Linked DNA regions of Homo sapiens. The protein of the gene in region 1 purifies or fractionates together with the protein of each later gene. This does not show direct contact. Each region holds a gene or a part of one and is shown in the gene's direction. Other genes may lie near its edges.

What was found.
Region 2: the proteins of CDK19 (region 1) and CTCF fractionate together in Homo sapiens (co-fractionation; one large-scale study listed by BioGRID). This does not show direct contact.
Region 3: the proteins of CDK19 (region 1) and MED13L purify together in Homo sapiens (affinity purification with mass spectrometry; 7 studies listed by BioGRID and IntAct, with this or other methods). This does not show direct contact.
Region 4: the proteins of CDK19 (region 1) and AZGP1 purify together in Homo sapiens (affinity purification with mass spectrometry; one large-scale study listed by BioGRID and IntAct). This does not show direct contact.
Region 5: the proteins of CDK19 (region 1) and GPN1 fractionate together in Homo sapiens (co-fractionation; one large-scale study listed by BioGRID). This does not show direct contact.
Region 6: the proteins of CDK19 (region 1) and MYCBPAP purify together in Homo sapiens (affinity purification with mass spectrometry; one large-scale study listed by BioGRID and IntAct). This does not show direct contact.
Region 7: the proteins of CDK19 (region 1) and MED25 purify together in Homo sapiens (affinity purification with mass spectrometry; 2 studies listed by BioGRID and IntAct, with this or other methods). This does not show direct contact.

The regions. Positions count from the first base shown.
Region 1 is NC_000006.12:110,805,470-110,808,969, reverse strand, and holds part of CDK19 (cyclin-dependent kinase 19), read left to right. Parts: intron 1-3,500.
Region 2 is NC_000016.10:67,611,026-67,614,525, forward strand, and holds part of CTCF (transcriptional repressor CTCF), read left to right. Parts: coding exon 1-588; intron 589-925; coding exon 926-1,096; intron 1,097-3,500.
Region 3 is NC_000012.12:115,980,694-115,984,193, reverse strand, and holds part of MED13L (mediator of RNA polymerase II transcription subunit 13-like), read left to right. Parts: coding exon 1-14; intron 15-653; coding exon 654-1,077; intron 1,078-1,590; coding exon 1,591-1,810; intron 1,811-3,255; coding exon 3,256-3,444; intron 3,445-3,500. UniProt on the Homo sapiens protein: Component of the Mediator complex, a coactivator involved in the regulated transcription of nearly all RNA polymerase II-dependent genes.
Region 4 is NC_000007.14:99,969,631-99,973,031, reverse strand, and holds part of AZGP1 (zinc-alpha-2-glycoprotein precursor), read left to right. Parts: intron 1-1,025; coding exon 1,026-1,286; intron 1,287-3,401. UniProt on the Homo sapiens protein: Stimulates lipid degradation in adipocytes and causes the extensive fat losses associated with some advanced cancers. May bind polyunsaturated fatty acids.
Region 5 is NC_000002.12:27,646,050-27,649,030, forward strand, and holds part of GPN1 (GPN-loop GTPase 1), read left to right. Parts: intron 1-816; exon of another isoform or gene 817-944; intron 945-1,786; coding exon 1,787-1,894; intron 1,895-2,981. UniProt on the Homo sapiens protein: Small GTPase required for proper nuclear import of RNA polymerase II (RNAPII). May act at an RNAP assembly step prior to nuclear import.
Region 6 is NC_000017.11:50,514,939-50,518,438, forward strand, and holds part of MYCBPAP (MYCBP-associated protein), read left to right. Parts: intron 1-1,631; coding exon 1,632-1,759; intron 1,760-2,354; coding exon 2,355-2,514; coding exon of another isoform or gene 2,515-2,559; intron 2,560-2,656; coding exon 2,657-2,760; intron 2,761-3,500. UniProt on the Homo sapiens protein: May play a role in spermatogenesis. May be involved in synaptic processes.
Region 7 is NC_000019.10:49,831,789-49,835,288, forward strand, and holds part of MED25 (mediator of RNA polymerase II transcription subunit 25), read left to right. Parts: intron 1-147; coding exon 148-233; exon of another isoform or gene 234-311; coding exon 312-369; intron 370-519; coding exon 520-627; intron 628-3,197; coding exon 3,198-3,389; intron 3,390-3,500. UniProt on the Homo sapiens protein: Component of the Mediator complex, a coactivator involved in the regulated transcription of nearly all RNA polymerase II-dependent genes.

The DNA.
Region 1 (3,500 bases):
CTCCCAAAGTGCCGGGATTACAAGTGTGAGCCACCACGCCTGGCCCCATTTCTTTGAACAGATATTAGATATTGCTAAGGAAAATAGGCATATTTTTGAGAAATAAATATTTTCTCTTAGGCCAGCTCTTTTAGAATTGCTAGACTAGTAATCTGTCTTCTGTGCTTTTACTAGCTATTTTATAGAGATGCTTAGAAAATACCAGTATTTAAATACATTTTAGGACAAATTTTGGTTTTATGGGTTTATGGTAAAAAATTAAGTATCTTTAACACTTAGTAAATGAAGTAGACATCTGTTTATGTTTAACTGGTTTGTCATTTTTGTAATGCAAGCCTTCAAAAACTTTTTGAGGCCTAAGGGAAATTAATGTGTTCTTTTTCAATGAAATTTGATAATCTAGAGCAGTGATCAGCAAACTTTTTCTGGCAGATACTAAATATTTTAGGCCTTTTGGGCTTTACTGTCTCTGGTGCAATTACTCAACTCTATTGTAGTGCCAAAGCATCGACAGATAATACGTAAACCAGTATGGATAAGGATGGCTGTGTTCCAGTAGACCTTTATTTATACAAATAAGCAGTTGGCTGAATTTAGTCTGCAGGCTATAGTTTGTTGACTCCTGGTGTAGAGCAGTGATGTCCAATAGAACTTTCTGCAGTGATCTGAAAATGTTTAGCATCTGTGCTGTCCAATATGCTAGCCACAAGCCACACGCCACACATAGGTATCGATTACTGGAATGTAGTTAGTGTGATTAGAAACTAATTAGTAGCTATCACATTGGACTGTGTAGGTTTAGAGTCTTTGGATGAGTGGCTTAGCAACAAATAATTCTCTGATCCATCAAGTGACCTTTCAATAAAAATGTTTAAATCAGGGTGTGGATAAATAGGAAAACTGTTATGTCTTTTTTCAAGTTACAGGAGAAATATTAAGGCTGAAATAGCTTGATAAAGCAAACCAATACTTGAAGAACTATCAATTTATGAATGGAATCAAGGATATTTAACTACTTTTTCAAAAAAGTATTTTATGGCCGGATGAGGTGGGAGGATTGCTTGAGCCCAGGAGTTTGAGGCTATAGTGAGCTATGATGATGCCATTGCACTTCAGCATGGGCAGCAGAACGAGACTCTCTTAAAAAAAAAAAAAGGTATTATAAAAAAAAGTTTGTAAATAGTATATGTGCGTAAAAATATACAATGTGGCTGGGCGCGGTGGCTTATGCCTATAATCCCAGCTCTTTGGGGAGGCCGAGGTGGGCAGATCACTTGAGGCAAGGAGATCAAGGCCAGCCTTGCCAACAGCGAAAACTCCGTCTCTACTAAAAATACAAAAAATTAGCCGGGCGTGGTAGTACACACCTGTAATCCCAGCTACTCGGGAGGCTAAGGCACAATAATTGCTTGAACCTGGGAGGTGGAAGCTGCAGTGAGCTAATATTGCACCACTGCACTCCAGCCTGGGTGACAGAGTGAGACTCTGTTTCAATAAAACAAAAATAACAAAAAACCACCAGTGTAACGTAAGTCATCCCTTTCCCAGCCATTCTTTCCCTTTTTTAGGGGCAGTCATTCTTGGTTGTCCTTTAAGAGGATTTTCTTTTGGGGTATGTGCATGTGTGTTAACTTAAAGATGTCATTAAATATGACATGCTAGTGTGCTGCACACTTTTCTATTTTTAGATCATGGCTCACTGCAGCTTTGGCTGCCTGGGCTCAAGCAAGTCTGTCTCTTGGGCTCAAGCGATTGTTTCACCTCAGCCTCCTGAGTAACTGGGACTACAGATGTGGGCCATGCCCAGCTTTTTTTTTTTTTTTTAAATTATTTGTAGAGATGAGGTCTTGCTATGTCTCTCAGTCTGGTCTTGAACTCCTGGCCTCAAGTAATCCTCCTACCTTGACCTCCCAAAGTGCTGGGGTTACAGGCATAAGCCATCATGCTTGGCCCTATTTTTATTTTTATTTTTATTTATTTAATTTATTTATTGAGACGGAGTCTTTCTCTGTCACCCAGGCTGGAGTGCAGTGGGAAGATCTTGGCTCACTGCAACCACCACCTCCCAGGTTCAAGCAATTTTCCTGCCTCAGCCTCCTGAGTAGCGGGGACCACAGGCATATACCACTATACCTGGCTAATTTTTTGTATTTTTAGTAGAGACAGTGTTCACCATGTTGGCCAGGCTGGTCTCGAACTCCTGACCTCAAGTGATCCATCTGCCTCAGCCTCCCAAAGTGCTGGGATTACAGGCGTGAGCCACAGTGCTTGGCCCATATTTTAAATCTTAAACATTGCTTAAACATTATGACATATCTATATACAGAGATGCCTTGTTTCTCTTAATAGTTTTGTTGTATCTCATTGTATTGACTTACATCATTGGCTGTCTCCAGTCTTGCTAGTACTAACACTGAAGTGAATATCCTAGTAAGCACAGCATTTTGTACCTATTAATGTGTCTGTAAGTTAAAGTCCTAGAAGCTGTTTACCTTTGGAAGTAATGGCTTGGAATGGTTTACTAATATGGTGATGTATAAGATAGAAATATCTGAAGACTGGAGATGGGGGGGTTGGCTAAGAATAAGGAAGTGAAATGTTAAGACAATAATAATTTTTTTTTTTTTTTGAGATGGAGTTTCGCTCTTCTTGCCCAGGCTGTTGTGTGATGGCACGATCTTGGCTCACCGCAACCTCTGCCTCCCGGGTTTAAGCGATTCTCCTGCCTCAGCCTCCCAAGTAGCTGGGATTACAGGAATGCGCCACCATGCCTAGCTAATTTTGTATTTTTTAGTAGAAACGGGGTTTCATCATGTTGGCCGGGCTGGTCTCAAACTCTTGACCTCAGGTGATCTGCCCACCTCGGCCTCCCAAAGTGCTGGGATTACAAGCGTCAGCCACTGCACCCAGCTGACAGTGATAATTAACACATAAAAATGAGCTATAAATCATTTGTTAAAGGAAGTACAAGTTACTTACTTTTTTTTTTTTTTTTTGAGAAGTGTTATCCAGGCTGGGGTGCAGTGGCACGATCTTGGCTCACTGTACCTCTGCCTCCTGGGCTTAAGCTACTTTCTCATGGCTACTGTTTTAGGAGCATGGAAAAGGCATGTCTCTGAGTTTTACATAGGAAGAGTAGATCCATGGAAAGGTTTTTAATGCAATCTATGTCAGTGTTGATGAATTAAGTATTTTTATTTTTTAAAGTATATAAAATATAGTGTCCTACATTTTTGAACTTAATATGCTAGACAAATAAGTTCATATGTGGTGTTATAAATTGTGTACAGTTGACTGTTGAACAGCAGGAGTTTGAACTGTGTGGGTCCACTTACACGCAGATTTGTGAAACCTGCGTATATGAGGGCCAACTTTTTGTATAGGTGGGTTCTCCAGGGCCAACTGCAGGACCTGAGTATATGTGGGTTTTGGTATATGCAGGGGTCCCAGAACCAACCCTTTAGGTATACTGAGGGACATCTATTTGTTTTGAAAAATTA
Region 2 (3,500 bases), on another chromosome or scaffold:
AGCTGGACCCCACCCTTCTTCAGATGAAGACTGAAGTAATGGAGGGCACAGTGGCTCCAGAAGCAGAGGCTGCTGTGGACGATACCCAGATTATAACTTTACAGGTTGTAAATATGGAGGAACAGCCCATAAACATAGGAGAACTTCAGCTTGTTCAAGTACCTGTTCCTGTGACTGTACCTGTTGCTACCACTTCAGTAGAAGAACTTCAGGGGGCTTATGAAAATGAAGTGTCTAAAGAGGGCCTTGCGGAAAGTGAACCCATGATATGCCACACCCTACCTTTGCCTGAAGGGTTTCAGGTGGTTAAAGTGGGGGCCAATGGAGAGGTGGAGACACTAGAACAAGGGGAACTTCCACCCCAGGAAGATCCTAGTTGGCAAAAAGACCCAGACTATCAGCCACCAGCCAAAAAAACAAAGAAAACCAAAAAGAGCAAACTGCGTTATACAGAGGAGGGCAAAGATGTAGATGTGTCTGTCTACGATTTTGAGGAAGAACAGCAGGAGGGTCTGCTATCAGAGGTTAATGCAGAGAAAGTGGTTGGTAATATGAAGCCTCCAAAGCCAACAAAAATTAAAAAGAAAGGTAAAACGAGTTTATCCATAGTGGTTTCATAAAACCATTTTGGGATAAGCATACAACACAGTGCATATGCAAGTTGTTTTATATTAACCGTATTTGTAAAAGGTCGTTATGTGGGTACCGTTCTTTAAAACCAGTCTAAAATAAGTTTTTTCCAGATTGAATGCTCTTTTTTTAATCCCAAAGAAGAAGGAAATGTATTAGTGACATGAGATAATTATGACTTATATTGGGTTTTGTTATTAAAAGCTAATCAAATATATTTGTAGAAATTTAAGATTAGGATTAATCTTAACACTTTGAAACTCTGCAGCAAGTAAGTGTTTTATTTTGCACATAGGTGTAAAGAAGACATTCCAGTGTGAGCTTTGCAGTTACACGTGTCCACGGCGTTCAAATTTGGATCGTCACATGAAAAGCCACACTGATGAGAGACCACACAAGTGCCATCTCTGTGGCAGGGCATTCAGAACAGTCACCCTCCTGAGGAATCACCTTAACACACACACAGGTGCTGGATAAGAATGTTGGGGGCTACAACAGCAAATGCTCAGACTTCGCTTTTTAGTATTCATTCAAGCTGACTCCAGCGGGAATTTAAAGGAAGTTTTTATTATTTCTTATGATGCCCTTTTTGTAATCATGATTTTATTGTAAGCACTTGGACTTAGTTATTATAGACAAATGTAAAGAAAATTTAATGAAAAATAACACCCTCTCTCTTAAAAAAAAGAAGTCTCAGGCAATAGATGCCTGGTACTATGAGGAAGAATGTTAGAAATAGAAGTGAAATCCCAGTGAAACCCTGTCTCTACTAAAAATACAAAAAATTAGCTGGGTGTGGTGGTGGGCGCCTGTAGTCCCAGCTACTCGGGAGGCTGAGGCAGGAGAATGGCGTGAACCCGGGAGGTGGAGCTTGCAGTTAGCCGAGATCCCACCACTGCACTCCAGCCTGGGCGACAGTGCGAGTCTCCGTCTAAAAAAAAAGAAAAGAAAAGAAATAGAAGTGAAATCCTACCTTTATTTAAAAAAAAAAAAGTGGCCGGGTACAGTGGCTCACGCCTGTAATCCTAACACTCTGGGAGGCTGAGGTGGGCAGATCACTTGAGATTAGAAGTTGGAGACCAGCCTGGCCAACGTGACAAAATCACATCCATCTGTACTAGAAATACATAAATTAGCCAGGTGTGGTGGCGGGTGCCTGTAATCCCAGCTACTCAGGAGGCTCAGGCAGGAGAATCGCTTGAAACCTGGGAGGCAGACACTGCAATGAGCTGAGATAGTGCTACTGCACTCCAGCCTGGGCGACAGAGTGAGACTCCATCTCAAAAACAAACCTTAACATTTTTTGTTTCTGGTTGTTTCACGTCAAGGAAGATAATTCATAATTTCAGAATGGAAAAGCTAAGGCACCATTCTGATAATTCAAACATTTATTTGAGCATCCTACTTACTTTAGTGTTCAGATATTCTGATATTAGCTTCATGTTGGCTGTGGCCAGGTTCCCTGAGGTCTCTAAAGTAGAGGGACTCTGTGCACTAAACCTCTCTTTAAGCTTTCCTGAGCTATTTGTTATCCCAGTGTAGGAAGTTGGTTGCAAGTCTTCTCACATGGTTTTTCATGCAGAATAACTTCATTTCATATGACAACTCTTGTTTTTGATTTTTAGGTTTTTAAAAATTTCTAATGACAACCCTTGTTTTAGATTTGTTGTGCTGGTTGTCAGATGACCATGATCAAGTGGGTGTTAATCATAAACAGTATGCTGCACATGGGCACATTCTTCACTAATGTGACTTACTTTTAAACATCTCCCTAATTTCTACTCAGACACTTGATAATATGTTTTATTTGATACTTTGAAGACACTAGGATGGGGCATATGACTAAATAAAAGTAACTGGGTAATCCCAGCACTTTGGAAATCCAATGGGGGGTAGATGACCTGAGGCCAGGAGTTCTAGACCAGCCCGGCCAACATGGCAAAACCGCCTCTGTACTGAAAATACAAAAAATCAGCTGGGTGTAGTGGCACACGCCTGTAAACCCAGCTACTTGGGTGGCTGAGGCAGGAGAATCACTTGAATGCGGGAGACAGAGGTTGCAGTAAGCCAAGATTGTGCCACCGTACTCCAACCTAAGTGACAGAGCAAGACTCTGCCTCACCAAAATAAATAAATAAATAAATAAATGGCCCCATAACAGGACTTCCCAAGATGGGTGTGCCTTGGTGTGGGCATTCTCTATCTGGTCTTCAGCTTTGAAAGTAAGAGGTACAGTCTATCTGGTTACTCAGCAGATTTGGCAAGACTGATTCATACCAACAAAACCCATAAGAGCAGATGCATACACCAAGAGTATCAGTTTATGGTGAGGAGTATACCTTTTCATGTTCCAGATGCAGTTGCATTGCATTCTAGGGGGCGCCTTTGCCTCTGTTACGATGCTGTAGCAGCCGGGCGCCGTAGCTCTCGCCTGTAATCCCATCACTTTGGGAGGCCGAGGTGGGTGGATCACCTGAGGTCAGGAGTTCAAGACCAGCCTGGCTAACATGACGAAACCTCGTCTCTACTAAAAATATAAAAATTAGCCGGGCGTGGTGACGCATGCCTGTAGTCCCAGCTACTCGGAAGGCTGAGGCAGGAGAATTGCTTAAATCCAGGAAGCAGAAATTGCAGTGAGTGGAGATCGCACCATTGCACTCCAGCCTGGGCGACAGAGTGAGACTCCATCTCAAAAAAAAAAAAAAAAAAAAAAGATGTTGTAGCAATTGAAAGCTAACTTGGTGAGGATGAGCCTTGATGGCTGGGCATGGTGGCTCACACCTGTAATCCCTGCACCTAGGGAGGCTGAGGCGGGTGGATCACTTGAGGTCAGGGGTTTGAGACCAGTCTGGCCAACATGATGAAACCTC
Region 3 (3,500 bases), on another chromosome or scaffold:
CCGCCATCACCTAGGTAAATGGGAATTTATTTGGCAAAGTAGAATTGGAGAAGTAAAATAGCAAATCCGTCCCATCCCTTCTTTTATAGATGCAACATTATATTTCTTTTGTCTCAAGTAATGCTGTATTTGTTAAGGTCCAGTTTGGTGTTCTGGGCAGTTTAATGCTAATTTCTATATGGACATATATTTTTTAAAAACTATTCAAAGTTGCCTAATCATGTCTAATTACTGCACATTTTGAAAACTTAGCAGCATGACTTGGTATTAGCTGCTTAGTTTTAACCCATATTCTGAAGAGAATCTTAGAAGCTTGTAAACCTAGGAGCATAATGTCCCATGATGACTGTGGAATATATAGCTTCTCATTTTTTAGGGCAGGCACATGGAATCAGTCTGAAAGGAGACTATCACAAGTGATTGATTTTCTCTTTTCAAACAAGCCTCTACTGTAGAATTTATAAGTTGCTCCATGTGCATCTCCATGTTTGCAGAATACATAAGCATGACTGTGGAGATAGTATTTTGGGTATTGTAATCAGAGTATTGCAGCCTGAAAGCATAATGTTTTTACAAGTGACCATTCTAGATTCTGGTTCAGTCCGACACTGCAGAATATCACTAAAGTCACCTCTTTGCATGTATTCTTTCAGCACCTTATTTAGCCACTCTGCAGCTTGATAGCAGCCTATTGATACCACCTAAATACCAGACCCCACCAGCAGCAGCACAGGGACAAGCTACGCCAGGGAATGCTGGGCCCTTAGCTCCAAATGGATCAGCAGCTCCCCCAGCTGGCAGTGCATTTAATCCCACCTCGAATAGTAGTTCTACAAATCCTGCAGCAAGTAGTTCTGCATCTGGTTCCTCTGTGCCACCGGTCTCATCGTCTGCCTCTGCTCCTGGTATTAGCCAGATAAGCACTACCTCTTCTTCAGGATTCAGTGGTAGTGTTGGAGGGCAGAACCCCAGCACTGGGGGCATTTCTGCGGATAGAACGCAAGGGAACATAGGCTGTGGTGGAGACACTGACCCTGGGCAGAGCTCTTCTCAGCCCTCACAGGATGGACAAGAGAGGTATGTTATTCACTAATTGAGATGAGTGGCTTCAGCTCAGACCCTTTCTCTCTTCTTCTTCTGCACCTTTTCTCCCTTGACCTCATGATTCTGTGAATCCTATGAAGTGCTCTATTTCTCTTCTCAAAAGAAAGGGGCAATGGTCGATCTAAAGCTGCAGTGTTAAAAATTTGAGACTTCTTATAAATTATTATGAATTATAAACTTTATTATTAAACTTACTTACTATCAACTTAATTAGTAACAACTTTGTACAACATAACCACAGAAAAGAAAGGGGAGTTGAAAAAGATACCTCCCATTTTAGAGGAGTACATTGCCATTTTCCATCTGCCCTCGATGCTCTCTGGCTTGGTTTGCCTGTATTTTGGTAAGGTGATAAATGTTACTCTTACCTTTAATCTGTAAACATTCTTTAGGGAGCCTGTGTGCTCTAGAATTGAGCCCTTTTGTTTTTCATGTTCGTGTAATTTATATTTATTTTGTGCATCTCACAAGTGACTCTCTCTCCAGTGTTACAGAAAGGGAGAGAATAGGAATTCCCACGGAGCCTGACTCTGCAGACAGCCATGCCCACCCTCCAGCTGTTGTCATTTACATGGTGGACCCGTTCACGTATGCTGCAGAGGAGGACTCCACTTCTGGGAACTTTTGGCTGTTGAGCTTGATGCGCTGCTACACAGAAATGCTGGATAATTTACCTGAGCATATGAGAAATTCTTTCATTCTCCAGGTTACTGTTTGCAAGTTTATTATTTACTTTTGATGTTGTTATTTTTGTTGTTATGAAAATAAATACAGGCCTATGATTTTTCTTAAAAAATGGAAGTACAGGTTAATTATCCCCTAACCAAAATACTAGGAACCAGAGTGTTTTGGATTTCCGATTTTGGAATATTTGCATATATATAATGGGAGACCTTTGCAGTGGGCCCAAGTCTAAACATAAAATTTATTTATGTTTCATATACACCTTACACACATAACCTGAAGGTAATTTTATACAATATTTTTGGTCATGTTGTGCTTTATACAAAGTTTTGATTAAATTTTGACTGCAATACATCACATGAGGTCTGATAACGGAATTTTCCACTTGTGGCGTTTTATTGGCATTCCAAAAGTTTTGGGTTTTGGTGCATTTTGGATTTCAGATTTTTTGATTAGGGATATTCAACCTGTACATGAAAGTATAAAAGAAAAATAGTCATAATTCCGTCTTTTACATTCAACCACCATAACCATTTTGGTGTATTTCTAGCTTGTTTCTCTATTTTTGTTTACACAGTTGAGATCATACTTTTAATATAACTTATTTTCTACCTAATGTTATTCATTAACACATTTTCATATTATTTAAATTCTTACAAGCAACATTTTTAATGACTGCATATTTTCCATAGTCATTCCTATATCTCCACTTCTTTACTGTTATAAATAAAGCCATAGGACACGTTTATGTATAATCTTATTTTTCACATTTCAGGTCATTTTTAACATGGATTCTTAGATGCTGACAAATATTGCCAAATTCCATTCCAAAAGAGGTTACACTTATTTCCTTTCATCAGTGAATGAGTATGCTTATTTTCACTGCACCTTTGACAGCTTTATAGTGTAATGATTTTTTAAAAAATTCTATATAGATGAAAAACAATGCTTCGGATGTTTGGGTTTCGTTTTAATGTCACTTTAACTGAAGCTATCTTGTAAAATTAAAAGATTGAAATTAAAGTTATCAGAGTACATTGCTGATAGTTTTCCATTGTTTTGAAGTCTGTATCCTAAATGATTAGGTAATAATTCCAAAAAATGCCATACACACTGTGTAATTATAAAAAGAAATATAATAAAATTTTGGGGCCATGGTAATACCTGTAATAAATTGAGATCTTACCCCTAAAGTGGGAACATGGTAGTTTCTAAGTGACAGTATAACTTGACCAACATAATCGTACATCTTTTGAAATTGCTGGTGATAGAGAATTTTATGTCAGCGGAAGGAATTAGGATTTAATTATATTATGTGTGGCACAGATATATTTTAAGGCTGAGGTTACCTCTCCCCATTGTGGTAAGGAATTCATGCCGTTTCCTTTTTCAGCTTGCTTGTTAGTGTGTTAGATCTCAGTTTCTAGGTTTTTGGTTTTTGTTTTTTTTTTGTATTTGTGTCTTTAGATTGTGCCTTGCCAGTACATGCTGCAGACAATGAAGGATGAGCAAGTTTTCTACATTCAATACTTGAAGTCCATGGCATTTTCAGTGTACTGCCAGTGCAGGCGACCACTGCCTACACAGATCCACATTAAATCCCTCACGGGATTTGGGCCTGCAGCCAGCATTGAGATGACCCTCAAGAACCCTGAGGTAGGTATTGGCAGGACAGAAACTTAGAAAATTTATACTAAAATGCAAGCTAGAAG
Region 4 (3,401 bases), on another chromosome or scaffold:
CATTCTCCTGCCTCAGCCTCCTGAGTAGCTGGGACTACAGGCACCCGCCACCATGCTTGGCTAATTTTTTGAATTCTTAGTAGAGACGGGGTTTCACCATGTTAGCCAGGATGGTCTCGATCTCCTGACCTCGTGATCCACCCGCCTCGGCCCCCTAAAGTGCTGGGATTACAGGCGTGAGCCACTGAGCCCGGACGAAATGTTAATTTGTTTTTTTTGAGACGGAGTCTCACTCTGTCATCCAAGCTGGAGTGCAGTGGCATGATCTTGGCTTGTTGCAACCTCTGCCTCTCTGGTTCAAGTGATTTTCCTGCCTCAGCCTCCAGCATGACTGGGATTACAGGCCCGCACCACCATGCCCAGCTAATTTTTGTATTTTTTAATAGAGATGGGGTTTCACCATGTTGGCCAGGCTGGTCTTCAACTCCTGATCTCAAGTAATCTGCCTGCCTTGGCCTCCCAAAGTCCTGGGATTACAGGCATGAGCCACGGAGCCCAGCCTAGAAATGTTAATTTCTAACGCATGTCAGATTCCATGCACACTGGGCAAGGTTCCATTCCTCCATGGGGTGACTCAGGGATCCAGGCCAATTGCATATTGAGACTCTTTCATATTATCCTGTGGCCTTCAAAGTCGTCACCTCTAGGGATGAGAAACAAAAGGGACAAGCCAGCTGGTAGGGTCTTGGACAAGAAGAAAGACATCACTTCTGCTCACATTCTCTTTTGACAAAACTCAGTCACATGGTCCCAATATATCTTCGAGGTGGCTGAGTAATGTTATCTTCCTATGTGTCAAGCAGAGGAAATAATGTAGTGAAGACACAGGATGGTCTCTGAAATATCATCTCAGGCATGAAAGTAGAGCATATTCACTTGAGTGAGCCTCCAGTGGTGTGAAGTTGATGGCAGGAGAAAGAGCTGGGGAAGAAAAGGCCAGTGGCAGGTCTCCCCTCCTAGCCCTATGCAGCCCCACAGTGGGACCCTTGCATGGACCTCAACCATCAGAATCTTTTCTTTTGCAGGTCGTTACTCTCTGACCTATATCTACACTGGGCTGTCCAAGCATGTTGAAGACGTCCCCGCGTTTCAGGCCCTTGGCTCACTCAATGACCTCCAGTTCTTTAGATACAACAGTAAAGACAGGAAGTCTCAGCCCATGGGACTCTGGAGACAGGTGGAAGGAATGGAGGATTGGAAGCAGGACAGCCAACTTCAGAAGGCCAGGGAGGACATCTTTATGGAGACCCTGAAAGACATCGTGGAGTATTACAACGACAGTAACGGTCAGTGAATAACAGACCACAGGGGTGGAAGGTCTAACCCAAGAGGCAGCCCCCCCAGTGTGAGTGGCAAGGGATCAGCAGGATGGAAATAGTCCCAATCCCAGGGGAAGAACAGGAGACACAGCAGAAACACAGACATGTCCACATCCCACCCACCCCACAGCACAGGTGCTCCCCGCTTCCCCATCAATTGCCCCATCCTCATCCCAGGCCTCAGGTCACACAGGAAGTGATGGCAGAGTCACTTCCTATCCAGGCACCTATGACCTCTCACCTCCACACCCCACCCATCGGAGGCTGATACCCCCGTGAGAAGGCATCAGACTCACCCCTGTCCAGGGAGGTTGCCTGGAGAGTGAGCCACTCTCAAAGTCACTCAGACCTGGGCTCACCTGGTGGTTCTGCCAGTCCTAGCTGTTGACAGTGAAACGTTCCCAAAATATCTGGTTGAAATCTGCAAACATTGGAGCACTGAGACCTACCTCCAAACAAGTCTGTAATATTTAACTATGTCTGTTCTATGAAGGATGTCACAGTCTGTCCTGATCTCCCTTGCAGCTCCATCACCTAGCACAGGGTACAGCCAATATTGGCTCAATTGAAATTTGTGGAATCAACAGAGAAAAGCACCCAGCACACACCGTAGCCCATGCTGGGGGCTCAGGAAGTGCTGGATTCAAAACTGTGGGCTGTTAGAGTTCCTTGGAGCCCTAAAGTTCCTCCTTACCATACGATGCAGACCCAGGAAGGGCCACCTGCGCTATGGTCAGAGGAGCTGGTGGCAGAGCCCGTGCAGAGATGGTCCCTGTGCCCCCGGCCCAGTGCTCTTTCTCCTAAACCACACTGCCAGCCCCAAGGCAGCCAACCTCAGGTCTGGTGAACTGCTGGTGTTAAATTATCATAGAGTGGGTGTCAAAAGATGGGCTACTAAGTACAAAAATGCCCAAGGTGCTACATGGGATCTGAAGATTTTCAAAAGGAGGCAAGAAAGAGATAGGCAGATGTTTCAAGGATGTGGGGTGGGGGAGGTCTTGGTAAGGAAAATGGCCCAGGCTGTGTGTCAGCAATAGGAGAGGAGGGGGCACAGGTGATCAGAAAAGACACTGGGGGAAGCATTGATGGACAGGAATAGAAATGGCAAAGTGGATAATTAAGAGGAAGGAGGATGAGGAGATGAACACAGGGTATTAGAAAATAATAGAAGGCAGGGCTTGGTGGCTCACTCTTGTAATCCCAGCACTTTGGGAGGCTGAGGCAGGCAGATCACCTAAGGTCAGGAGTTCGAGACCAGCCCGGCCAACATGGTGAAACCCTGTCTCTACTAATAATACAAAAATAGCCTGGCATGGTGGCACACGTCTGTGGTCCCAGCTACTCAGGAGGCTGAGGCAGGAGAATTGCTTGAACCCAGGAGGCAGAGGTTACAGTGAGCCAAAATCCTACCATTGCACTACAGCCTGGGTGACAAGAGTGAAACGTTGTCTAAAAACAAAAAACAAAAAACAAAAAAAGGAAATAATAGTAGCTGACATTTACTGAGCACTTACTTTGTGCCAGGCCCATCTATGAGCATATATAATGCTCAGAATAGCCCCCTAAAACAGTGCTCTTGGCATTGCCATTTCAGAGGTGAGGAAATAGAGGCACAGGGAGTTGAGTGGCTCCAGTTCAGGCAACACACCAGGTGGGGGTGGGGGGCTGGGGAGAGACCTGGGACGTGAGCCCAGACAGCTTGAGAGCTTTCAGAGTCTATGCCAACAGCACCAACCAGTGCTGGGTAAACACCTGCTTTTATCATCAGAACAAAGAGGCTGTGTCCCCTGCCCTATGAGGTCCATTTCTGAGAGTTGTGGCTAATGGGCAAGAAGGTTGGGGCTTTAGAGATTTGGGATAAAGATATCAAACACCAGAAAGGTAGAAAGAAGTGATCAGATTAGGGTTACTTAGGTGATGATATGAACTCTTCCTAGAACTGAGAGAAAAAGAGAGCCTTCCTTTACTCATATGAAATCACAAATAATTTCTATCCAATTTGGAAGTACACTTTGGTGTAGTTGTGACAGCTTCCTCAGGACTCAGCATAAATTCAAACAAATAATTGTCCTTAGAAGAGAT
Region 5 (2,981 bases), on another chromosome or scaffold:
ATTTATTTTTGAGGCAGAGTCTTGCTCTGTCACCTAGGCTGGAGTGCAATGGCGCGATCTCGGCTCACTGCAACCTCCGCCTCCCGGGTTCAAGCGATTGTTGTGCCTCAGCCTCCTGTGTAGCTGGGACTACAGGCACATGCCACCACGCCCAGCTAATTTTTGCATTTTTAGTAGAGACAGGGTTTTGCCATGTTGGCCAGGCTGGTCTTGAACTCCTGACCTCAGGTGATCTGCCCATTTCAGCCTCCCAAAGTGCTGGGATTACAGGCATGAGCCACCATGCCCAGCCCCAGCTTGAAATTTATTCTAAGTATTTAACCTTCTTCATTACTGTTGAAAATGGGATTTTCTGGACCGTTACATCTTATAACTGGTTTATGTTTGTATGTATGAAGGCTTTTGATTTCTGTATATTCATCTTTTATCCTGCTACTTTACTGAATTAAAAATTTTTTTTTAGTTTTATCATTGGCTCTGCAGGGGTTTTTAGGTTAGTTTTCATTTACAGCCCACCTTCCACCCCCACCCCTGTATATTGAGGGACTGCCCTCAAGATTCAGATGCAAGTCTATTGCAGCTTAGTGGAATCCTGCAACCAAATTGACTGTACTTAAAAGAAAAGCTCCATTTATTTATTTATTGTAATAAATTGTACATTTATTTTTTCTTCTCATCAGCAACACTAGCATTTTTTTTTTCTGGGACATCTTTCTTAAAGGAGTGATGCTTCTGTTCATGAAAGTTATTGCTCTATATCTAGTAGAGAACAGCAAAGCTAGTAACGGACTGGGTTTACCAGTTAAGTGTACTCACTTGTGCCATCCTGTTGTACAGCTCAGCAAAATACATTTCTATGTGCCACAGTCCTTTAGAATCACTTCTGAATATGTGAAGTCAATGTTAAAACTACTGCTGCAAAGGGTCTGCTGTAGTCAGCTAACCTGTTGAAGGTTGGGAGAGTTTAAGTAAATCATTTGAGGAAAGTCACAAGTATAGTTGCATAATTGTTAGGCACAGAATGAAGCATTTACTGTCAGCATGTCCTGTCATCCTCCTTTTTCAGGCCCACAGGCCCCTTGAGATTTGTGCCAGTTGATGTTGCTGTCTCTGGCCACCCTTATTCCCTAGCTGAGCTCTCGCAAGCCTCATAGGCTCCTGAAGAGAGAGTGACTATGTCCTCCCATGGCAGTAGTGACTTGATTAGACTTCTCTCTGATTACTGGAGCTCAGCCCTCACTAGTTTTTCTGAATAGGGAATTTTACTTCTATTAGTGTATTTGATTTTCTATTTTTCCCCTCCCTCCTCTTCTTAAATAATACCCTGGCTCCTTGATAACATTTCACCCTGTATTTTCTGCAGACCTTCTCTGAACTTACATTTCCACCAGGAGGCTTCCTTAGCACTCCACACTTTCACTGTGACTCACCAGCACACTGGATCTGCTCAAATGTTGTTAGCTTTCATAGGAAAAACCATCACCCCTTCCAAGCTGTGAGCCAGTAAAAAAGAATGATGCTACTAGTAAGACAAGCTTCTTGAAAATTATTTCCCTCAGCTTAAAAAAATGGGACTCCTAGGGCTATTTGCCTTATGAAAGCACTTTGTGAACTAAGCTATTATAGAAATGTTAAGTGGTATTAACAATACATTTAGAAGAGGTAAGATCCTGCGTTTATATGTATCATGAGCACTTTCATCCTGCCAGTTTATGATCATAGTTACTTAGTGATTCAAGATCACCTTTTTGAGGAGGCATATCACTGATAGGTGTTTTCACTGTAGACAGCTTATCTCCTGTGCTGCACCCTTCTGATTTGATCCTGACTCGAGGAACCTTGGATGAAGAGGATGAGGAAGCAGACAGCGATACTGATGACATTGACCACAGAGGTGAGAGGTGGCTGAGGTGGCCCGTGGCAACAGAGCATCTGCTTATCCTCACATTGTTTGCCCAGGAGTTTCTTGCTTTAAGCGTGTAGCCAGTAATAGTGGATAAAGGATACAGCACCAGAAAAGAGTTTCCTATATTGAGAGTTCCTGTCCTGCCTACTGGATGGTTAATACTGAGCTGATTACAGGCCTTTCGTTGGTCTTGTGTCTTCTTATCTTTAGGTCCTAACTTGGTTTGAGGGATCCAGGACTTTTGTTTGTTGTTATTAGTATTTTGTTTTAAGAATATGTAAGGGCTGGGTGTGGTGGCTCATGCCTGTAATCCCACTGCTTTGGGAGGCCAAGTCAGGAGGATTGCTTGAGGCCAGGAGTTCTGGACAAGCCTGGGCAACATAGTTAGTCCCACTCTCTACAAAAAAGAAAAAAATAGCTGGGCATGGTTACTCACACCTGTAGTTCAAGCTGTTTGGGAGGCTGAGGTGGGTGGGTTGCTTGAGCCCAGAAGTTTGAGGCTATTATGAGCTATGACTGTGCCACAGAACTCCAGGCTGGGTGACAGAGTAAGACCATCTCAAAAACAAAAAACACAAATAATACATAAGGTTATATGGACTAAAACAGTAAGGATAGAATGGCTCTGGAAACCCAAATTCCACTTGGCATAGTTTTATGGACTGTGCGCAGAATCTAATTGTTACTATTATTTTTTTGAGACAGAGTTTTGCTTCATTGCCCAGGCTGGAGTGCAGTGGCACGATCTCAGCTGACTGCAACCGCTGCCTCCCGGGTTCAAGTGATTCTCCCACTTCAGCCTCCAGAGTAGCTGGGACCACAGGCACATGCCATCACAGCTGGTTAATTTTTTATATTTTTAGTAGAGACGGGGTTTCGCCATGTTGGCCAGGCTGGTCTCGAACTCCTGGCCTCAAGTGATCCGCCCATCTCGGCCTCCCAAAGTGCTGGGATTACAGGCATGAGCCACCATGCCCTGCCAGAATCTGATTCTTGAAACAACCATAGGCCGGGCACGGTGGCTCACGTCTGTAATCCCAGCACTTTGAGAGCCAAGGTGGGCGGATCACCTGAG
Region 6 (3,500 bases), on another chromosome or scaffold:
TTGCCCATGGGGTAAGCCTTCACATGGCTCACTGAGCTCTTCACGATATGGCGGCTGCTGCTGTCTCTGGGCTCTGCCTCTTCCCTCCCACCTCACCACACTCCAGCTATTCAAAAACACATGCTTTGAGTTCCAGGGATGTGCTCCATTCTTTGCCACTATGCCTCTTTATGTTATTTTCTTTGGAATGCCTGTTCCCCAGGGCCCTTTCCTTTCTCCAGCTTCTTCAGCTCTATTTAAACATCCCTTCCTTAGGAAGCCCTCCCTGACTCCCCCACCTCCCACGCCCGCCGACTCAGGGCTGGTTGTTCCCCCCCACCATGTTCCTGTAGTTACTCTGGCTCAGTCTGTTTCACGGTCTTGTTTCCCATTGGGCATGTGCTCTTTAAAGACAAGCTCTGGCATGTATCCCTAGAACCTAGCACAGTGCCTGGCATGTAGAAGCTGCTTAAACAATCTTTATTAAATGAATATGCAATAAATGGCCAGTGGTGAATGCTCTGCTTCCCCCACAGAGATTCTGCACTTTAACCAGTGTCTTGTGAAACCCTGTGCCTTCACCCAGAAGCATGGATCAGTGCCAGCACTGGAGGAGGCTGGCAAAACATCTAGTTCAGTTGTCCCAAACCACTGTGCATCAGAATCACCTAGGGAGTTGAAAAAAGTACAGCTCCCTAGGCCCTGGCTCCATGCAGTAGTCAGGAAGCTGTATTCATAAAACTCCCCCAAAGATTCTGAGGCAGACATTGGACTAATAACTTGGGAACCACTGATTTAGTCCAACTGACTCTTTCTACACATGGAAAGCCTGAGGCCTAGAGAGGTTAAGTGATGCGTACCCAAGACTGTCCAGCTTATAAATAGCATAGCCTGAAATGGAACATCTTTTTTGTATATTAAAAATAATCTTTTTTGTACAGATGGAGTCTCAACTATGTTGCCCAGGCTAGTCTTGAACTCCTGGGCCCAAGCAATCCTCCTGCCTTGGCTTCTCAAAGTGTTGGGATTACAAGCTTGCACCACGGCACCCGGAATGAAACATCTTTTTGTTTTGTTTTGTTTTGTTTTTGAGACAGAGTCTCACTCTGTTGCCCAGGTTAGAGTGCAGTCACACGATCTCAGCTCACTGCAACCTCTACCTCCCGGGCTCAAGTGATTCTCCTGCCTCAGCCGCCCGAGTAGCTGGGACTGCAGGCATGGGCCACCACACCTGGCTAATTTTTGTATTTTTAGTAGGGACGGGGTTTCACCATGTTGGCCAGGTTGGTCTTGAACTCCTGGCCTCAAGTGATCCTCCTGTGTCAGCCTCCTAAAGTGCTGGGATTACAGGCATGAGCCACCACACCTGGCCTGAAACGAAACATCTTCTGATCTCAATTCTGGCTACAGAAGTCTTAGTCACTGTGGTGAGCCAGGGGCTGTGGGTAGGGGGACCCTCCAGAGAGAACTCCCATTGCCCCAGCAAAGTGCTACCCAGGCCACCTTGGCAGCCTCTGCTATCTATCCAGCTGGTCAGCTCTGCCCCCCACCATGGAGTCTAGTATATATTTTTACTTTTATTTTTGTATGTATATATTGATATATACAGAAGGAGCTCTTTAAGGACTTAATAACTTTCTGCTTCTCTTCAGAAAAGAAGCGGGCAAAGGGACCTGAACAACCCACACCCACAATTCAGGAAGAGCCTGAACCTGTTAGCAATGTCCTACAAGGAGATGACATTCTTGCCTTGGCCATTAAGAAGGAAGACTTGAAGGAGGTGAGGATGAAGCCCAAGCTTCCCTTACCATAGAAACGTTTCCCTGCCGGCAGCCTGAGTGGTCTAGAACACCAGCCATGTCCCTACTCATGGGGAGTGTCTAACTCCATGGAAAAACCCACTGAACACAGATTCTTTTCACTTTACCACCTTAAGGAATTCACTGTGTTGTCTGTTTTAACATTTCTGAGATTCATATAGAACCACAGGGGAAATGAGATGATGAGGTATCTTGCTTCCCATAGAGGTAGGTGCCATCATTCCCATTTCACAGACCGGAGGATGAGTTTAAGGAGCCAAGGTACAGCTCTGGGTAAAGCTGCTAAACCCTAACCCCATGCTTTACCTGGGAGAGTCAGCCATCTCTCACCCAAACTGTCTGGAGGCATAAGATGTTCTTTTTTTTCCCTCCAGGATATTACTAAGTCACATATCTGTTACACAGGCATTTCCTTGACAGAACATATGGACAGAGCTGAAGAAACAGATCTGTCAGCCTTCAGGAACTCCACCCAGAACTAGAACAGAAGAGATGGGTGGTGCTCTTCCTCCTGCCACCACAGGTGGAATTCTCCTTTGTTTTATTTCTTTTTAGCAACACATTCCTCGCCTTACTGAAAAGGAAGATAAACGTGTCATCACCCAGAAATTTATCATCCGTAAACTCAAACCCATGGATCCTAGGAGGAAGGTCTGCCACCTTGTAGCACGTCCTGCGAATCCTGATGAAGCCACAAAGCCTCTGGACTACTCCGGTACACCCAGTCTCAGCCCTGGCTTCACTGTCTTTCAACTCATGGGTCAGCCTCAAGAGAAACCCAGTCTCCATCAGAAAGTTGCCCTCTTGAAAGTTGTCCACCCACAGCTTCTTTCCCCTTTCTTCTTTTATCCTCCCAGGTCCCGGTGACAGCTTCGATGGCAGTGACCAGATCCTGCCCCACCACATCTTGGGGAGTCTCCAGGATTTTAAGAGAATTGCACTTGCTCGAGGGAACACCCAGGTTTGTTTGCACAGAACTACCCGGATGAGAGCAGTCACTGAAGTCATTTTGGTCTCCCACCTGACACAGTCAAGCAGGGCTGGGGTTAAAGAGACAGTCTAGTCTGTAGGTTTTGAGTCTGAGTTGATAAGGGACCCTCTCCCAGAATAGTTGGACACTTCAGGCAGCTGAAGCTGGCTTCAGTGAAGTCAGGGATTTACTGTAAGGATTCCAGAGATTGCCTCATGGAACCCAAAGGCGGGAGTACCTGGGTCTGGGTAGACTGCACCCAAAAAGGCATCAGGACTCAGGGCCCACATGCCTCATTTCCCTCTGCTCTGTGCACTGTCTTGATTTTCCCTTCTCTGGAGACTGGCCTGCCCTCCTCAGTCCACGTGGTGGAGGAAGGTGGCTTCCCACTGCTTCCTGGGCCACGGGAAGATTCTGTATCTTTCCAGCCTTCCCATCATGCAGTGCTTCACCTGTCTCTTCCCCTTGCTTCCCTGGTTCCAGGCTGACTCTGATTGGTCAGGCGCTAAGGGGCCTGGGGCCCTGTAAGAATGCTTCCATTTACACATGGGTGAAGGTGGCAATCAACATCAGTTGTGAGGACAAATACACTAGATGTTGACCCCAATCTTGAAACAGAAGTTCCCTTTGTGGGGGAGAGTGGACTGACAGCTGCTTTCAGGGCCCCCTGGTTCTGGGATTTATTTTCTGTCACTGGCTACTCTGGAGTCCTGAAGAGGAGGGACTCTCAG
Region 7 (3,500 bases), on another chromosome or scaffold:
TTGCTGGTCTGGAGGAGGGGCCTGGGGCTCATGGGACTTAAACTGGGGAACATCCTGAGCTTTGGGGCTACCAGGGTAGGACATGAGGGCTCAAGGGGACTGAGGCTTATGGCCCTTTTTACTGACATGCTCTTTTTTCCCCCTCAGAAACCCAAACCTGCCTCAGTGGATGCCAACACCAAGCTGACGCGGTCACTGCCCTGCCAGGTCTACGTGAATCATGGCGAGAACCTGTAGGTGACAGTCAGGGGCGGGGTGTGGTGGGGCTGGGGCTGGCCCCCTCCTCACACCTCTCCTGGCATCGCCCCCAGGAAGACGGAGCAGTGGCCCCAGAAGCTGATCATGCAGCTCATCCCCCAGCAGCTGCTGGTGAGTGGCGGTGGAGGGCCAGCCCTGCTGCCGGGCAGTCCTCACCCTGCTGTCTCTTTCCTGTTCCCTGCCCCACCCCCACTCCCTGCCTCATGTCCCCGCCTCACTTGCCCACACCAGCATGCCAGCCGACTTCTGTGTCTCCCGCAGACCACCCTGGGCCCTTTGTTCCGGAACTCAAGGATGGTCCAGTTCCATTTCACCAACAAGGACCTGGAGTCTCTCAAAGGCCTCTACCGCATCATGGGCAACGGCTTCGTGAGTCCAGGGCATGGGGGGCCGAGGGGTGTTGACTCTTGTCCTGCTTTCTGCTGACCTTTGACGGGAATCCCAGAGTGCCTGGGCCCACGGAAGCCGTTTTTGATGGTTGGGTGCACTTCATGCCCTTAGGTTCCTCGCCTTTCTTCTAGAGCCGTGACTTTTATTATAATCATCGTATGCACCAGATTTGAGGGATATTCCACATTAAAAATGTGAGCTGGATGTGACAGGATCAGTTAGGAGGAAGCTGTTGATTCTGGCATGGCTTTATGGGATGTGTTCATTTCCTGTGGCTGTGGTAACACATTACCACAAGCAGAGGGGCTTAAAACAACAGAAACGTGTTCTATCCCAGTTCTGGAGGCCAGAAGCCCAAGGTCAGGGTGTCAGCAGGGCCACGCTCTCTCTAGAGGCTGGAGGGAAGGCCTCTTCGTTGCCTCTTCCGGCCGGTAACCCCAGGCTTCAGGTGGCATCGCTCCAGGGTCTTCCTCCATCCCGCAGCTGTCTTCCCTCTGTGTGTGTCTCCACATGGCATTCTCTCTGTATCTTTGTGTCTGTGCTTATAAGGACATCAGTAATTTTGGATTAGGCCCCATTTTCCTGACCTCATCTTACTACAATTGCAAAGACCCTCTTTCCAGATAGAGTCACCTTCACAGGTGCTGGGGACTGGAACCTCAGCTTAGCTTTCTGGTTTTGTTTTTTGAGACAGAGTTTCACTGTTGTCAGCCAGGCTGGAGTGCAGTGGTGCAATCTTGGCTCACAGCAACTTCCGTCTCCTGGGTTCAAGCGATTCTCCTGCCTCAGCCTCCCAAGTAGCTGGGATTACAGGCATGTGCCACTATGCCCAGCTAATTTCTGTATTTTTTAGTAGAGACAGGGTTTCACCATGTTGGCCAGGTTGGTCTCGAACTTCTGACCTCAAGTGATCTGCCTGCCTCGGCCTCCCAAAGTGCTAGGATTACCGGTGTGAGCCACCGCGCCCAGCCTCAGCATAGCTTTCTGGGAGTCACAGTTCACACTTTGTAACTCGGGGAAGGAGCAGATCAGTTACTTCCGTGCACCAGGCACTCCTGCAGGAAAGAGAACCTTAGGGGGATCACCTCACGAGACCCTCACAGAACCTTGTGAAGAAGGCATTCCTGAGAGTTAGTACTTCCGGCTGCAAATCACGTAGTTTCCCAAACACATAGATAATTGGGGGCACTCGGAAAAAATGTTCTCTTATGATTCTGTGGGTCACCTGGGCTCAGTGGGCCATCTCGCTTGGCGACTCTCACGGGGTTGCCATCAGATGGCAGCTGAGACTCTGGTCATCTGAAACCTTTACTGGGCTGGATGTTCAAAACAGCTCCTCACACAGCCCTGGCTGTTGGCTGGGGCTTGGCTAGGACCGGCCATCCCAGTGTCTGCACATGGCCTGTCCACGTGGCCACACTGTGGCAGCTGGGTTCTGAGAGGGCAGGCGTTGTAGGAGCAGGCATTTATATTTTGCACAGGACAGGACATCTAGAGGGGGCCAGCTATTGGGATTGGTTTCATAGGTCTGTGACATCAGGGACAGGGCCCTGTGGTTCTCTTGGCCTCTCCTTTATAGTCACAAGGTAGCTCTCATGGCTCCACGCATCCTGTGTGCTTTCATGAAGGAGGGGAAGGGGGCTGTGTGTTTCCCTTTCTTCAAGACAGCAGAAACTTTCTCAGATTCCAGAGCAGGCATTCCTTTCACCTCCTATCCCGGACCTAGGCCACTGGGCAGCCCCTAGTTGATGGGAGGCTGCTGGGAGCAGGTATCCGTGACTGTCTGGGGCTGGGACATGTTACAGCCCCAGACAGCATTGGGAATGCAGGGGAGGAGGACACTTGGATATGGAATAGGCAGCTAGCAGGGTCTGTCTCAGGCAGGAAACCGAGGCTCAGAGAAGTCAATTCACTTGGCCAAGGTCAGCCTCGCCTCCCTCAGGAGCCCCTGCCCTGAATGCTCCATGTGTTACCCCCCTGATGACCAGTGATGTTTCCTGGGTGCTTCCTGTGGGCTGAGCCTCAGGCAGGGCTCTTGCTGTGGATCAGACATCGCATAGTCACAGCGACCCTGTGATGTGGGAGCACTCCCCGTGGTGTACACTGGCCGGTGCTGAGGGCTGGAGGATCTCTTGGATACCCGGGGTCCGACCCACCGTTGATCACAGGCCTGTGGGTACCACGCTGTGCATCTAGGCCGCTCTCCCGGCCGTGACCCTCAGCCGCCCTCTGAGGAGGCCGCCGTGGCATTTTATGCCCAAGAAACTGGGTCCATGAGGAGCAGGTGGTGGCTGAAGGTTGAAGAGCTGGGCTCCAGCACTTTCTCTCCGCTTTCCCTCTCAGTGGGCAGCTGGAACCCTAGCTTGCCCTGAGCGCCTCAGTTTCTGTCTCCAGAGCAACCCATAGCACACCTGTTCTCCTTAACCTTCTATAGCAGAAACCTCACCTCACCTTGCCTGTGGGGCCTCTAGAGCCTTCTGGAATGGGGAGGGGGTCAGGGCTGCCTCTTTCAGGGCCTGAATGGTTCTGAAGAGCTGTTGTCCACCCAGGCGGGCTGCGTGCACTTCCCCCACACGGCGCCCTGTGAGGTGCGCGTGCTCATGCTCCTGTACTCGTCCAAGAAGAAGATCTTCATGGGCCTCATCCCCTACGACCAGAGCGGCTTCGTCAACGGCATCCGGCAGGTCATCACCAACCACAAGCAGGTCCAGCAGCAGAAGCTGGAGCAGCAGCAGCGAGGAGTGAGTGTTGACAGTCCCCAAACCAGCACTCCGACCCCCTCCTGCCCGGGCCCCACATGGCCCCCTGGGGTCTCCAGGACCAAGATGCCCACCCTTCTCCCAATATGTGGT